Regions from separate parts of the Homo sapiens genome. Here region 2 is linked to region 1. Evidence: fine-mapped expression QTL. A gene starts in region 1. The other region holds a variant in brackets. All regions are shown on one strand. Distances are between the middles of the regions.

Region 1 (8,494 bases):
AATAAACAGACCTCTGTCTTAAAATAAATAAAATTTTCAAAAAGTAAATAAAACTGTTAAAAAAAAAAAAAAAGTAATGAGTCCAGCCACACGGGAGCATATCATGATTGTTCTAAGTTAGTGCTTCTCAGTGGAAGCGGGACACTGAGAAAATGGGTGTTTTTGTTTGTCACCATCATGGGGCACTTTTGGGATTCAATGAATGTTAGATTGCCTGCATTCCACACTATAGAATTACACAACAAAGAATCAAACAAGGGCCAGGCCCGGTGGCTCACGCCTGTAATCCCAGCACTTTGGGAAGCTGAGATGGGCGGATCACGAGGTCAGGAGTTCAAGACCAGCCTGGCCAACATGGTAAAACCCTGTCTCTACTAAAAATATAAAACTTAGCTGGGCATGATGGCACGTGCCTGTATTCCCAGCTACTCAGGAGGCTGAGGCAGGAGAATTGCTTGAACCGGGACCCGAGGGGCGGAGGTTGCAGTGAGCCAAGATCATGTCACTGCACTCCAGCCTGGGCTACAGAGCAAGACTCCGTCTCAAAAAAAAAAAGAATCAAACAAGACCCATACTGTCAGATATTCAAGTACATTAAACATACACACAAACATAAAAACAGTAACAACAAATTTGTTTATAATTATCTGAGCCTAGAGTTTAACCCCATATACAAGTAAAAACAAAAGTAATTTGTGTATGGTTTTAATATATACGGAATTTTCTAGGAATACAACTATTGCATAAAAAAAGCAAAGGTTTTTTTTTTTTGTTTTGAACTTTATCAAGAGTTATTCACCATTTCAGAAAATCACAATAGTGACAACACTTCCAATATTTAAGTCACTAACATATTTTCATTAGTCTTTAGAGGCCATTCATGATATATATGTACATTTTATACATATGTGCATTTACCATATATGCATTCATAATATATATTTATGCATGATATGTATGTATATATTGAATCCTTATTTTGCAATGTCAGACATAAAAAGTGTTGACCATATTCAGCTGAATATTATCTTTTTTTTTTTGAGACGAAGTCTTGCATTGTTGCCCAGGCTGGAGTTCAGTGGTGAAATCTCGGCTCACTGCAAGCTCCGCCTCCTGGGTTCACGCCATTCTCCTGCCTCAGCCTCCCGAGTAGCTGGGGCTACAGGCGCCTGCCACCACGCCCGGGTAATTTTTTGTACTTTTAGTAGAGACGGGGTTTCACCGTGTTAGCCAGGATGATCTCCCATCTCCTGACCTCGTGATCCGCCCGCCTCAGCCTCCCGAAGTGCTGGGATTACAGGCGTGAGCCACCGCCCCGGCCTTATCTTTTTTTGAGACAGGGTTTCATTCTGTCTCCCAGGTTGGAGTGCAGTGGCACAATCATAGCTCACTGTAATCTTGAATTTCTGGGCTCAAGTGATCCTCCTGCCTCTGTCTCACGGTAGCTGGTACTACAGGCATGCACCACTATGTCTGGCTAACTCTTTAAGTTTTTGTAGAGACAGGGTCTCACCATGTTGCCCAGGCTAGTCTCAAACTCCTAGCATCAAGCGATCCTGCAGCTTTGGCTTCCCAAAGTGCTGGGATTACAAGCTTGAGCTACCAACTGTGCCTGGCCCAGTCGAATATTATATGTCCTGTAAAACCAAACTCATTCGTTATAAATAGATACAAGCATCTGACTACTCAATTTTGTCATCTAATATAGACATGCCTGTGCAGCTACGTATTATAATACATATTATTTTCTAATAAATTACTTTCCTATTTTTCTCCTTTATATTACAGTTAGGTCATTAAGTAGATTATTTATCGTGTATGTAGATTATATTACCTATGAATTTCATGCTGGGATTGTAAAGGAGATGTTACAAAATATAGCAAGGTGAATAAAGGAAATATATTGGAGTTTGGGTTGACAGGGCTTGGATCAATGATTAAAGGGAGTGGATGAAGGAGTCAGGTATAATGTGTTGATTTCTGGCTTGGGCAACCAGGTGGATGGTGGCGCCATTCGCTAATACAGGCAATACAAAAGGAATAGTAGGTTTAAGGAGGGAAATGACGAGTTCAGTTTTGGAGATTTTTAGTTTGAGGTGCCTTGGGATGTGGAGGCATCCCATGGGTACTAGGATATACACCTCCGGGTTTAGGAGATAGGCTCAGGTCACAGGCAGACTGGGAAGCATCAACATATTAACTAATAACTGAAGTCAAAGGAAGTGTGAGATGGGCCAGGGAAAATGGACAGAGGGAGGAGGTACAAGGCCAGAGCCCTGGGACACATTTAATGTCCAATATATTTTTTTTTGAGACAGGGTCTTGCTGTGTTGCTCAGGCTGGAGTGCAGTGGTGCAATCATGGCTCACCACAGCCTCAATCTCCTGGGCCCAAGTGATCCTCCCACCTCAGCCTCCTGAGTAGCTGAGACTACAGGTGCATGCCACCACACTCAGCTAATTTTTAAATTTTTTTTGTAGAGATAGGGTCTCACTACGTTGCTGTGTTTGGTCTTGAACTTTTCAGCTCAAGCCATCCTCCCACTTTGGCCTCCTAAAGTGCTGGAATTACAGGCATGAGCTACTGTGCCCATCAAGTGCCCAGTACATTTAAAAGCTGGGCGGAGGAAGAGGTCTGCAGAGGAGCCTGAGATCAAGCACCCTTAGGAGAAGAAACAAAAGTAGAGTCTGAAGTCACAGAAGCTGATGGAAGAGTATTTTTCAACAATGGGAGAGAACCAGTCAAGATTGAGATATGTGAGATTAGAAAGTGGAGTTATAGCTGGCCTTGGCTAAAGGCATTTCTGGGAGTGGAAGCCAGACTGGAAGAGGATAAGAAGTGGGTGGGGGAGAGCCGAGTATGAGCGACTCTTTCTGGTAAGTTGCTGCGACAGGAGATAATGCTGGGTAGGTGGAGAACACAGGGACCGGAGGAGCTGAGGCGGAAGGATGGAGAGGCTTAAGCATGTGTTAACTGCCACTGGGAAGAAGTCGGCAATCACGGAAGCTACCGGAGGGTAAGAAAAAATTCATTCATTCAACAGTTGAGCGCCTCCCACGCGCCCGATCAGTATGGCCGCCCCCACTTGAAAACACGCGTGTGGGCCGCCCACGTCTGACAAGTTAATGCAAGGCTTTATAGTTAGGGGAAAGCGGTTCTCCTTGAGCTCTTTCTCCTAGCAGTTCCGATTCCGACCCTGACTCCAACAGACACCTTGCGGGAACGCAAACACCGCTCGAATTCATGACCCCAATAGAAAACTTAAGGCCGCAACTAAGTAACGGATCGCTGCGAAGGCCAAACTAGCCACGCCAACGCCCCCACTGGAGCCTCCCCAGCGCTCCGCCCCCGCTCGCGAGAACAGCGGCGACGGCGCGAGAAATCGCTTTCTGGTTAGCTCCGCCCCTTCCCTTTCTTTGTTTTCCTGTCCGACGATCTCGCGGGAGTTAGGCGACAAATCCCGCGAGCGCAGACCCGGGGCTGGCTCTGCTGCTCTCGCGATATTTGCGCGAGCCTGCTTCCTTCTTTCCTCCCTTGCCAGTCCGCCTGTCTTCCTCCCCGTCTTCCCTGCCCGGCCTCCCCCTTCTTCCCCCGCTGGCCCCCTCCCCGGAGGGATAATATGGTCTCCGGCGATGGACGCCCCAAAAGCAGGTCAGTTTCGGGCCTCCGAGCTGGGTCTGGCAGTTGGAAACGCGCGCTGCCTAGGCGCCGAATTCCTTGCTTTTCTCGCCTGGAGTCGCTCGGCAGGCGCCCAGGCCCTCGGGGCTCGGGTTGTGCTCCCCTCGGGGCCTGCCTGCTGGGCCGCCCTTTGAGCCTAGGCCGCGGAAGCTGGGGCTCCCGATCCCCACCCTCCTGCGCGACACCCGCAGGGCGGGCCACCCCACCGCTGGCCTTGACCCGCACCCCTCTCTCTCCGGTGGCCGCTGCCTGCTGCCAGCGGCTTCCTGGCCCCCGTCAGCAACACCAGGGGCAGGGAGAGGCCCACCGTCTTCTCCTGCCCGCCCCCCATTGGCGAGCGATGAAGGCGGGGGCCTGCGTCTCCGTGTTCGGGTCTCACGCAGCTAGATGTTGATTCCACGGTCCAGCCTAAGGCCCCTCAGTCTCTCTGTGCCTCTGGAAGCCGAATGAGGGGCAGTCAAGGTTGAACATTGGTCAGTCAGTTCTCCGACCATTTATTGCACCGCTGTCTCCTCCCCCGTCCACCTCCCTCTACAAAAAAAAAAAAAGAGAAAAAAATACTATTCATTCTGAAAATGGGCTGTGCTTATGTTTTCTCCTTTTGGATGAAAGCCTTAACAATGTTGAGGGTCCTGGCCACCCACCGCTATGAGTCTGCACAAAAGATCTGAAGGTTCTTTTCAACCTCAGGGCTGCCTCCCCGCCACTGCCCCCTAGAATGTTGGGAGCTGAGGCACGTTTAAATGAGACCTCTGGATCTTTGACTTAGTAGTTCAGCTTCAGTTCGTGCAAAACCAGAAGACTTGTCTCTTTCGGGTAGAATATGCTAATTTCCTAGAGATTCTGTTACTTTTATTTTCAGTACTAAGCCCTGGTAAGGACTTAACTGAGAAGTTTTTTTGTTTTGGTTTATTGAATGCTCTGTAAAAATCCGTCTTTTAGTTTTTTTTTTTAATCAGTCCCTCTAATGTTAATTGTGGAATTCACAAATTCCTGTCTCTGCAGTTTTCAAGACATGTCTTTCCAAAACGTCCCCGTGGATTATTTAAATCATTCTTATTGTCCCTTTCCAGGTATTCTTATCACATTTCAGGAGTGAATTATCTTACTAGTTTTTACTTGACAAATTATGGTTTAGAACTATGCTTTCCAGTGTGGTGGATACTAGCCCTGTGTGACTTTAAATTAATCAAAATTAAATAAATTAAAAATTCAGTTCCTCAGGCACGATAGCCACATTTCAGGTGCTCAATAGCCACACGTTGCTAATGGCTACTTTACTGGACAGCTCAAACATAGAATATTTTTACCATTGCAGAAAATTCTATTGGATAAAGCTAGTTTCCAGGTATTTTCAGCTGAATAAAATATTTTGTTGCTGCATTTAATGAAAATACAATTTTTTTTTCAGGATACGCCTTTGAGTACCTTATTGAAACATTAAATGACAGTTCACATAAGAAGTTCTTCGATGTATCTAAACTTGGCACCAAGTATGGTAATGTTGCTTTACATTTTCTTGGGTTTGTTTAGTCTCTAATAATGAAAATGCATTTGTCAAGCTGAGCTGAAGAAATTTTAAATGTATTTCCACCGTATTGTAACAGGTACACCTACACATACCTATACCATTTTAAAAACTCCTCCTGGGACAACTTCTGTTCAGGGAAGATGTAGGCCCACACCTTAACTTCTCATTTAAAAATCTAAGTTAATTAAGCACTAGTTTTTCCCCTCAAAGAAACCAATAATGCAGTTTTCAAACTTTTTTTTTTCTTGTTTTTGTGAAGACAGGGGTCTTGCTATGTTACCCAGGCTAGTTTTGAACCCCTGGGCCCAAATAATCCTCCCACCTCTGCCTCCCCAAGTTTTGGGATTACACATGTAAGCTACTGCGCCTGGCCTAATGTGATTTTTAGAAGAACCTGACTGACTGATGATAATTCTACACCAATTAAATGTATATTTTATTTTCTCTTTTCTTTTCTTTTTTTTTTTGAGACAGAGTCTTGCTCTGTTGCCCAGGCTAGAGCACAGTGTTGTGATCATAGCTCATACAGCCTTGAACTCCTGGGCTAAAGCAGTCCTGCCTCTGCCTCCCAAGTAACAAGGCCTACAGGTGTATGCCAACACATTTATATAAAAACATATTTTTATATTTTTTGTAGAGTTGGGGTCTTGCTGTGTTGCCCAGACTAGTCTCAGACTCCTGACCTTAAGTGATGCATCTGCCTCAGCCTCACAAAGTATTGGGATTGCAGGCCTGAGCCACTATGCCTGGCCTGTTTTACTTTGTCAAATGAACAGTGCCCACATCTATTCTTTTTGCCATCTGTTGAATAGGAATCACCAACAGGACCCATTGATTTGAATTTTTCTGAAGTATTGGGCATGGTTTGCCCCAACCTACACACCTGCAGTTTTGGCAGACATTCTCATTGACCTTATCAGGGTCAAACCTTTCTCTGTGGTCTCAGAAGAGTGAATGTGGGCGACCTATAGGGCATTGAATGGAAGTTTTGACTTTACTAACAGTTGAGTAACTTTCTCAATTGGGCCAATAGAGAGACCTCTTTAGAAGACTCATTATTCTTTGTGAACTTTTCCATGACAATGACATGAAAAGATAAATTGAATGCCACATCTGTTGCAGTCAGTTTTGGAAGGAGCTTTAATCTTGTTTTTTCTTGCATTATTTAATTAAGACGATTGTTCTTGTGATTTTTCTGTAGATTTTGAGGAATTTAAATATTCTTGACTGCTATGTGCAATATTTTTTGTGTATTGTGAAATACAGCTATTTTGGAGTATCTTAAAGAATCCCCATTTTAGAATTAGGCTGTCATTTAAAAATAAACAGTTTGCCAAAATGAGAGCAATATCCTTTACCTTGCATGTTTAGCTGCAGTGATTTGTGTTGATACGTTTGTTAAAGGAAGTTGGTCATTTTCTTAATGTATGTCTTTCACATTAATTTTATCCCTTCACTGATGGTGAGTTTGCATTAATTTTGAAAAGAAACAGCTAGATTGATCGTTTACAAGAATAGTCATTTTATTTCCCATTTACTTCTCCAAAATAATCTAGTGATACTGGCTTGGAAGTCTTTTAACCCAAATTTCATAGTTTAATAAATTAAAGGAGCACATAAGATGTTTTGAAAATTGAGTATAAATACTTTCTGTGTATAATCTGTAGAAATGTGCTTACTTGAAGGAAGATGACCTAAATTTCTCAAATTTAAGGAATCAGTAGGAAACTGTCAAAAACAACTGTAAAATGCATTGAAAGGGAATGATTGATAATCTGAAAGTTAAATTTTCCCTGGGAAATAAGTTGTCATGGGAATTTGTACATAACTGTACAGAGTACATGTGTACTTAACATAATTCCAGAATTACCAGTTTTTATAACCATGATAAATGTAATAATAGAATACCTGTGACTATAAATACTTTCAAAACAGAAAGTTGGTTTTTATGTGGGGTCAGTACCCTGGTTTTTATTTTATTTTATTTTATTTTATTTTACTTATTTTTTTGAGACAGGATCTTGCTCTGTCACCCAGGCTGGAGTGCAATGGTGTGATCTCAGCTCACTGCTGCCTCTGCCTCCTGAGTTCAAGCGATTCTCGTGCCTTAACCTCCCAAGTAGCTGGTACTATAGGCGTGCATCACCACACCCAGCTAGTTGTAGAGATGGTGGTTTTACCATGTTGGTCAGGGTGATCTCAAACTCCTGACCTCAAGTGATCCACCCACCTCAGCCTCTCAAAGTGCTGGGATTACAGGAGTGAGCCACTGCGCCCAGCCCCTCCTGCTTTTTTAATAGAGTGCTTATTATGAGAGGTTATTAAGTAATAATTACTTAAGTAATTTCCTAATAAGGAATAAAATTTGAAGAATTGACTTTGAAAGAAAGGAACAAGTTAGGTAGGAAGTATTTGGTTGTTTAACCTTAGAACAAAAAATCCTTATTGCATTTTTGAAAGGATCAGATTGAATTGCCTCCTAGACATATGCTTACAAGAAGACATTGCTTTGGTAGTCACCAAGGTACAGAGCCAGTCTTCTCCACCTCCATTCCACATTTTGATGCCTGCTAGGTTGAGAATGACTGTTGTAATGAGTAACGATTAATGAAGGGAATGGATTCTATCCCTCATAAATGTTACAGAGTAAAGATAGTTGAGAAACACTGTTCTAAGCTCCATGCTGACTATGTCAGGGATGCCTGCAGCTGCAAAGAACTGAAAACTTGCTGTCCAATGACTTTAAGAAATACGAGTTTATTTTTCTAACATAACGAAGTGTGGAGATTGGCAGACTGGGGCTGTGCAGCACCAATCTCCGCAAGGATCTAGGCTCGTCCTTTCTTCCCGTTCTGTTTTTATTCTTTTGGTTGCACCTCCAGGCATTATGTCCAAGTTAAATTTTCCCTGGGAAATAAGCTGTCATGGGAATTTGTACATAACTGTACAGAGTACATGTGTACTTAACATAATTCCAGAATTACCAGTTTTTATAACCATGATAAAAGCCCTCTCCAGGGGCTTTTGCCTCTTTGGCCAAAGTATCAGTGGCCACTCTTAGCTTCAAGAAGGCTGAAAGATGGAATAATCAAGGTCTTCTCTTACTCATGGGGGATATGTTCCAAGACCCTCAGTAGACACCGGAGACTATGGGTACTACCAAACCGTGTATGTACTGTTTGGTATATATTTTTTTCTATACATACATAGCTATGATAAAACTTAATTTATAAATGAGGCACAGTAGAGATTAATAATAACTAATAATAAAATAGAACAGTTATA
Region 2 (8,494 bases), 61 kb after region 1:
GGGCCTTACTATAGGTGACTGGGTGATAAGCTACCTTTTTCATTAAGCGATTCTATATGTCATTATCTGTATTTTCTCTGAGGCCATTCAGTTTCTTGAAGGAAAGAGACTCGTTCAGTATGTAGACATCTACTTAGTCCCCTGTTTTCAATCTGGTATTCTCAAGCCCCTGTGCCCAGTGTTTGTCAGTTTAGAGAATGTATTCTCTTCCTTATTTCTGCTATAACAAAAAATGAGTAAAAATTTGTAAAAAATGAGTAAAAAAGAACAAAAATTGGTCCTCAGGTGGTAAAAAAAATTCTACTTTTTGCACATAAAGTACAGATAAGAGTACATTAAAAGATACACAGCATCTTTGTGGTACTAAAATTTTGGAGAGAAGGGAGGTGAACAGGAAGACACAATTTGGGGGAAAAAAGTCTTAAAAGACTCCTTAGGTAGACAGTGGAGAAAAAAGTTGAAAAACACAAGTCTAGAGCCTTTGGCTCATTTTTTCCAGAGAATAAACCTCTACTCTTGTGGAGTGGGGATTGAGCTGGATCTTACTGCTTTGTATGGCCTTGTAACCTGTGTCCACGAGTATTCTGAGAACCTCATGCCTCTGAATCTCAATCCTTTTCCTGGGTCTTGTGTTGCACATTAACTCAGACCTTACTGGTATCACTCTCTAATTTCATTTTATCATTCTGCGGTTTCAGCATTGTCTTCTAAATCACTTACCTATCTCTGTTTTCTAAATATTCATAGAATTCTCTCATCCTATTCCCTTTGTTGCTGTGGGCTTATACCCTCTTCATTATTGTTGTTACTTATTTGTATTTTTTGGAGACAGGGTCTCACTCTGTCGTCCAGGCTGGAATGCAGTGGCATGATCTCAGCTCCCTGCAACCTCCACTTACAACCTCAAGTGACTCTCCTGCCTCAGCCTCCATAGTAGCTGAGATTACAGGTGTGCACCACCATGTCCAGCTAATTTTTCTGTTTTTAGATAGAGATGGAGTTTCACCATGTTGGCCAGGCTGGTCTCAAACTCCTGGCTTCAAGTGATCTGCCCACCTCGGCCTCCCATAGTGCTGGCATTACAGGTGTGAGCCACTGCATCCAGCCTATTCTTGTTACTTTTTATTGTATTTTTTATTTTTATGTTTTGTAGAGACAGGGTCTCACTATATTGCCCAGGCTGGTCTCAAACTCCCGGCCTCAAATAATCCTTCTGCCTCAGCCTCCAAAGTACTGGGATTATAAGCATATAAGCCACTGCGCCTGGCCCTATATACCTTCTTTATTCCTTTATTTTAGTGGCATTTCAAGAGTGTTGAAAACATATGTTAGATCTGGCATGTTTAAATAGAAATCCTTCTGAGCCCTACTTTGGGGTCAAGGGAGCCGGCCCATTTATAGAGCTCTTATGATGTGGTAGGCAGCGGCAGTACTTAACCCTAGAGCAGCAGAAAGGGATCCGAATAATTTAGAGAGCTCCATAAAAATTCAGAAAAATAATCTGTAAGAAGGTTCTGTAAATACTTTGATAAAATATTGATTCAGTATGAGATATTAGACTAAAAGTATTTAGAGAAAGGCCAAAGTAGATTTTTGCCCCCTTTAAATGCTCAATAAATAACTTTCAGAAGTGATTAGAGGGAATAAAATGCACATTTATTACAGGGTGTGAAAGCTGTTTTGGCCGAAAGTTATGAAAAAATACACAAAGATCATTTGATTGGAATTGGCATAGCTCCACTTCAGTTCCTTCCAGGAGAAAATGCAGATTCCTTGGGCCTCTCCGGTAGAGAAACATTTTCTTTAACATTTCCTGAAGAACTGTCTCCTGGAATTACATTGAATATACAGGTATCTCTAAATTTTTCAAATATATGATTATGCACTCAAATGTTTATGAATTATTGAATAAGAATCAATTGCTGTAAATTATATACTAATGTCACTTAATGAATGTTAAGTTGCCATTTAAGATGACTCTCTCTTCCATACTTAGATCTAGCTATGTTAATAGTTCATGTTCTCTGAGGAAAAGTGGAAAGAACTGGGTGCTTATACCAGAAAAAAAGAACACATGAAGGGGAATCTTGACTTCCACTTAACAAGTGTCAGCTTTCTTTTCATGGTGGTCATTTTTTTGCTGTCCTGATCTAATTTTAACCGAGGCATACATACCACTCCAAAGAGAGCAAAGTTGAGCGTTCAAAGTTAGAGCAAAACAGACTTTACAACTAAGAAAAAAGGGGAAAGAGTAGGAGTTACTGATTACATGCAATCAATATTTGGTGTAAAATGAATGTGAGTAGTGAGTATAACTTCCCCAATTAATAAGTCAAAATCTAAATGCAGCTATTTTTCTACTTAACTATGAAGCCCATGGTCAGGTATCTCAGGTGTTTTTCAAGCAGCAGCAAAGTTTCAGGCAATCAGAATATAAGAAATTAGAACCAAGATAAATCAGACAGAATCTGTGGCAAGTATAGTCATTAAATATGAAGACAAATGGTCTTAACCATCAAGTAGCACCTGGAAGATTTACTTGCTCACATGAGATGTTTTTGCTCCTTTCAAGACAAGCACTGGAAAAGTATTCAGCGTGATTGCTTCGTTTGAAGATGATGTGGAAATAACATTATACAAACATGGAGGATTATTAAACTTTGTGGCACGAAAATTCTCATAGTATCTACTTACCATAGATACCTTTCATAACTGGTAACTGCAAAGCCTTTTGTGCTGGACCCAGGAATCCTTACCATGGAGCAGCAGATAGTCCCAGTATACTCACTTATCTCATCCATGGATGTAAATGATGATGAATCAACATAGTAACTGAAATGAAATCTTCTTGATTTTAAATAATATACGAATGGTGCTATTAATATTGCTAAAATCAACGTGTGAAGTGTGTTGTGGAAGAGACCTGTAAGTATGGGGGGGGGGCGATATTTTATCAGACCATTTTGTAAATAAAGGCAGAATTTGTGTTGAAGATTCTTATATGAATAACCTTCCTGGATTTGTTTAGTTTTGCACCAATAAAACTGTGTACTACTGTTTGTTGGTTTAAGAGTAGCAGATTGAAATATAAGAAGCCAGATTAGACTCTAAAATTGTGGCCATTGGAATCTCATTTATAAATGGACCTTTTAAGTATATTAATTCCTCTTCAGAATTGAGCTGGACACATTTGGCATTCTTAGTTTGTCATATAACCAGGTTTATCCTTAGTCTAACTGCAAGGGATGGAACCTGCCCCAGGTCACAATCATTCTGTCCAATCCAGCCAAGGTTCCCTCCACATATGAAGATGGACCATGGCAGGATACAACTGATTGTGTGGCACCATGTATTAGCAGTGGGAATATGTATCACATATGATGCAGCCTTTCATATTTCAGCAGTTTGCCACTGTGACTGTCTGGCAAGCCCCCAGATGGCGTTATATTAATTGGATTAGATTATTTTGCTCACCTTATGTAATACTGTAACTTCCTATAACCTAATATTTTCGGTATCATTAACCAAAATTTCACACTCATAGTTGCTAAAGAGAATGTTATTCAATCATTAAACTCTGAACTGATTTCTTCTATACATTTAAATTATCCACCCTCAATAATACGGGTGCTCAACCCTATGCATTTTTTAAGTGTTGCTATTTCTTAATTAAATTGATTTCCTGTCATTTTGAATCATTTATCACCTGCGATGCATGATTCTATTAATTTTGTTATGTTACTGTTTTAACCAAAGCTGACCGTAAGGATAAAACACTTAAGTTGTTGCTGAGTACTATATATCCTCAATATGCATGTCTGCCCATCACATCAAATGTTCTGTCAACAAGATGTTTGGTAATTTTTTTTAAAAAGGTTGGAAAATTAATTATAGAAGGTTCTATACTGTTTTTTTAATTAAGAAACTAAGTCTAGCAGGCTAAAGGTTAATTGTAGTGATTTTTTTTCACATAGATATCTTTCTATGACCTAGTTAGTTACTGCAATTCAGAATTAGTTCACATTGCATAAAGAATTACTTGTTGTAAGCAAAATGCTGAAACTACCAAACCAGTGGATGAAGACCACTAAGAACTTTGCACATAATCATACAATCTTTTGAAAATATTTTGCAAATATGTGTTTAGACAATAAGATGGACTAGAGTTCGACAAAATGATTTCTTTATTTAAATTTTGTATAAGTATTTTCTTCGACACTTTCAAATTATATTGTGTTCTTGATATATGCTGTATATTTATTTGTTAGTGCATGTGTTTTTAATTTACATGAAAACATGAGTTAGGAGAAATTACAGGTTGAAAGATGAAATGCCTGTATGTGCTCTGAAGAAATGGTAATTCCAGATTGTGCAGGGGGAAACAAATCTATTTTGTTTTGTTTTGTTTTTTGAGACGGAGTCTTGCCCTGTGGCTGGGCTGGAGTGCAATGGCGCGATCTTGGCTCACTGCAACCTCCGCCTCCCGGGTTCAGGGGATTCTCCTGCCTCAGCCTCCTGAGTAGCTGGGACTACAAGCATGCACCACCACGCCCAGCTAATTTTTGTAGTTTTAGTAGAGATGGGGTTTCACCATGTTGGCCAGATGATCTGAATCTCTTGACCTCGTGATCCGCCCGCCTTGGCCTCCACAAGTGCTGGGATTACAGGTGTGAGCCACCACACCCGGCCTATATTGTTTTGAAAGCATACTCTATATATAGTTA[T/C]GGGCAGAGGCACAGGCATCCTCAGCAGCTGATTCAGGAGATGATGGTAAAGCTAGCTAACTATGAATTAAACATTCACATATCCAGTCTACCTGGTCCAGTAATAATACAAGCAAATCTTGTATTTCAGGAACAAATCAAGGTTCTCTTAATTTTTTGGCTTATATACAATGAAGTAAAAACTTGATAAACATGGTTTCAAATTGAGGAGGAGAGTCTTGGATGTATGTTTTAATATGTATACCTTATAATTCTGCCTCTAGCCAAATGCTATGTTTGCAAAATGTGGCATCTGTTAGTTTTTATTGTCTGTGTCTTCTTTGTTTACTATACCTTGGGTAATTTTGTGTTACCAAAAAAAAAAAAAAAAAAAGGAAGTGTAATGTCAGACACACAAGAAAAGCAAATCAGTGTTGTAAGCTTAAAGTACAATTTCAAAGGTCACTACCAACAGCAGGGTTTTTTTTATACTTTGAAAACATTATGCTACATATCATTGCCATTTTCATATTTTGGGGTTTTGCTACTCTTATACAATGGAATCAATGGAAATGTCATCCAGCCACTGAATTGCCATTATTATATCTAAAAAGTTTCTAAGATGACAGTTATCACTATTTTGTTTTATCTCCATGCTGACATTTGAAAGAAGGTACTAGTATCCCTCTAGCCAGATTGCTTAGTTTTTCGTTGGTAATCAAACAACAGTTGTACTAAAGGAAAGTAAAGCTAGGACCTAAATCAGAATCATAGTTGCCTGCATATATGGTAACAAGGTCGTGTGCATTTGCTTTCACAGTGATGAGTGAGAGGATGAGAAGAAATTATTTGACATTTTTCTGTGGTTGAATAGAAGACACCTTTCTTTTGTCTTTAGGTTTAGGAGGAGATACTAAGATACTGGATGTTTATCCTATCTTAGTTTGGTTGGAGTAATAAGAGAGAAGAAGAGGGTGGACTTTGGCTTTTCAGTGTTTTTTCCCCTAAAGAGTGATATTGCTGACGTTTCTATCAATTTTACACATAATATGTGGCTATGAAACCATATATCTCACTTAAGTAACAAAGTAATCACTTTGTCTATCACTAAGTAATAGACAAAAATCATTGTCTATTATTTAAAGCCAACAAAACAGTGTAACAGTTTTAAGTTCAATAATGTTAAGTATTGTATAGAAATATATTGGAGGCAAAGTTCAGTTGATGACAATTGTGTATATGTTACTGATGCTGTAAATTATTTTTAATAAAGAAAATTGTATTATCACATTTGATTCTTGTTCTGTTTTGTAGTAGTTGAAAATAAAACAACATGATGTAAAAAATATGCTGCCATCCGGCTGGGCACGGTGGCTCACGCCTGTAATCCCAGCACTTTGGGAGGCCGAGGCAGGCGGATCACGAGGTCAGGAGATCGAGACCATCCTGGCCAACACAGTGAAACCCTGTCTGTACTAAAAATACAAAAAAATTAGCCGGACATGATGGCGGGCGCCTGTAGTCCCAGCTACTTGGGAGGCTGAGGCAGGAGGATAGCATAAACCCGGGAGGCAGAGTTTGCAGTGAGCAGAGTTCACGCCACTGCACTCCAGCCTGGGCGAAACAGTGAGACTCTGTCTCAAAAAAAAAAAAAAAAAGCAAAAATGAAATGTCCCGCCATCCAGATGCCATCCAGGAGCAGCTGAGGATGCCTGCTCCCTGTGCTGCCCGTTCATTAGTGTTCATGAAACAAGTCATCGGAAGCTGGGAGCCAGGATCCCAGGTGTATTTGTTTGTTCTCGCATTGGTATAAAGAAATGCCTGAGACTGGGTAATTTATTTTAAAAAGAGGTTTAATTGGCTCATGGTTCTGCAGGATGTACAGGAAGCATGATGCTGGCATCTGCTTGGCTTCTGGGGAGGCCTCAGGAAACTTACAATCAAGGTGGAAGATTAAGTGGGAGCAAGCACTTCACGTGGCCAGAGCAGGAGGAACAGAGAGACAGGGGAGGTGCCACACACTTTTAAACAACTAGATCTCAGGAGAACTCACTATTGGGACAACACCAAGGGGGATGGTGTTAAACCATAAGAAACCACCCCCATAATCCAGTCACCTCCCACCAGGCCCCACCTCCAACACTGGGGATTACAATCCGACATGAGATTTGGGCGGGGACACTCATCCAAAAAGACGTATCCTTTCTTCCCACTATTATTAGCAACCTAAAAGAGTAAGGTTTATTTCTTAGAATTCAGTAATCATAAACCATAATTGGCACTTTATTAGAATTTTCTAAGGATTCCAATTTAGTATTCTAAGAAGTTTGCATTACCTAAAGGCTAATACCAACATAGGCACAAGCTGATAGTTTGAATATGCAGTCTAGGAGGAAACTTAAGAGCTTCATCAGTGTAGCATTTAGTTGGTTTACAGTTTTCACTTGATGCTAATTTTGCTTTTTAATTACAAAGTAGCTTCAGATTTACCATTTTGATTTGATGTATGTTGTAAACCTGTGTTCTGTACTTGAAAAATGCATTTATTGCAAAAGCAGATGCATATGTAATTCTCACAAAATTTGCTGGTATAATGACAAGTGTGGCCAGGCGAGGTGGTTCACACTTTGGGAGGCCAAGGCAGGAGGCAGGAGGATCACTTGAAGTCAGGAATTTGACCCCACCCTGGGCAACATAGCAAGACCCTGTTTCTTAAAAAATAATAATAATTAGTTTGGTGTGGTGCTGTGCACCTGTAGTCCCAGCTAGTTGGGAGGCTGAGGCAGGAGGATCGCTTGAGCCTAGGTTGAGGCTGCAGTGAGCTATGATTTATGCCACTGCACTCCAGCCTGGGTGACAGCAAGACCCTGTCTTTTAAATAAGTGTGTTGTCACTGTGAATTTTGTGTTTATGTGGTGTTAGTACTGAATTTTAAGCATTTTTTTCAGTATTTCCCTATCAATATCTATATGATCTGTGGCAGGGTCCCTTTTTATTACCAATATTGGTAATTTGTGTTTTCTTTTTTTTCCTTGATTAGTCTTTCTAAAGGGTTAGAAATTGAGTTAATTTTTTAAAGAGCCAATTTTTTACATTATTTTCTCCATTGTTTTCTGGTTTTTTGTTTGGTTTTGGTTTTGGATTTTTTTTTTTTTTTTTTCTTTTTGAGACGGAATCTGGCTCTGTTGCCCAGGCTGGAGTGCAATGGTGCGATCTCGGCTCACTGCAACCTCCACCTCCCGGGTTCAAGTGATTCTCCTGCCTCAGCCTCCCGAGTAGCTGTGATTACAGGCATGCGCCACCATGTCTGGCTAATTTGTTTTGTATTTTTAGTAGAGACGGGGTTTCACCATGTTGGCCAGGGTGGTCTCAAACTCCTGACCTTGTGATCCGCCCACCGGGGCCTCCCAAAGTGCTGGGATTACAGGCATGAGCCACCGTGCCCGGTTTGTTTTGTTTTATTGGTTTCTGCTCTGAAGTATTTCCTTTCTGTTACTTATTTAATTTCCTCCTTTCCCCCAGCTTTGTAACACTTTTCCTCCAATGTAAATGTAAATATTTAAATTTTCCTCTAAGTGCTGCTTTAGCTGTAGCCCACCGTGGAAACTAAAGCCAATTTTGAGCATTTTAAACAACTTGTAATATATAAAGGAAGTATCATAAAACTGCTGGGATATTGTTTTATGAGACATTGTTTTATAATGTAAAATCATGTCCATAATCTCACTGCAAATTGTTCATTTTGTTTCACTCCAGTTTTGTTTTTTTTTTTTTTTTATCGCTGAGCTCTT

What was found.
Region 2: its variant is fine-mapped to the expression of IREB2 in blood mononuclear cells (TOPMed, PIP above 0.99). The same link has a PIP of 0.9 or more in T cells.

Annotation. Positions count from the first base shown.
Region 1 is chr15:78,434,706-78,443,199 of GRCh38, forward strand. It overlaps IREB2 (iron responsive element binding protein 2), which reads left to right and starts at 3,511. Exons shown (of 22, transcript NM_004136.4): 1 at 3,511-3,651; 2 at 5,090-5,176. The coding sequence starts at 3,633. RefSeq lists enhancers at 3,046-3,125, 3,196-3,255 and a silencer at 3,726-3,965.
Region 2 is chr15:78,495,461-78,503,954 of GRCh38, forward strand. It overlaps IREB2 (iron responsive element binding protein 2), which reads left to right. Exons shown (of 22, transcript NM_004136.4): 21 at 1,666-1,851; 22 at 2,573-5,993. The coding sequence ends at 2,683. Among named protein-coding and RNA genes, the nearest start is that of HYKK, 7.9 kb to the right of the region's middle. The variant T/C (reference allele first, on the strand shown) is at 4,725.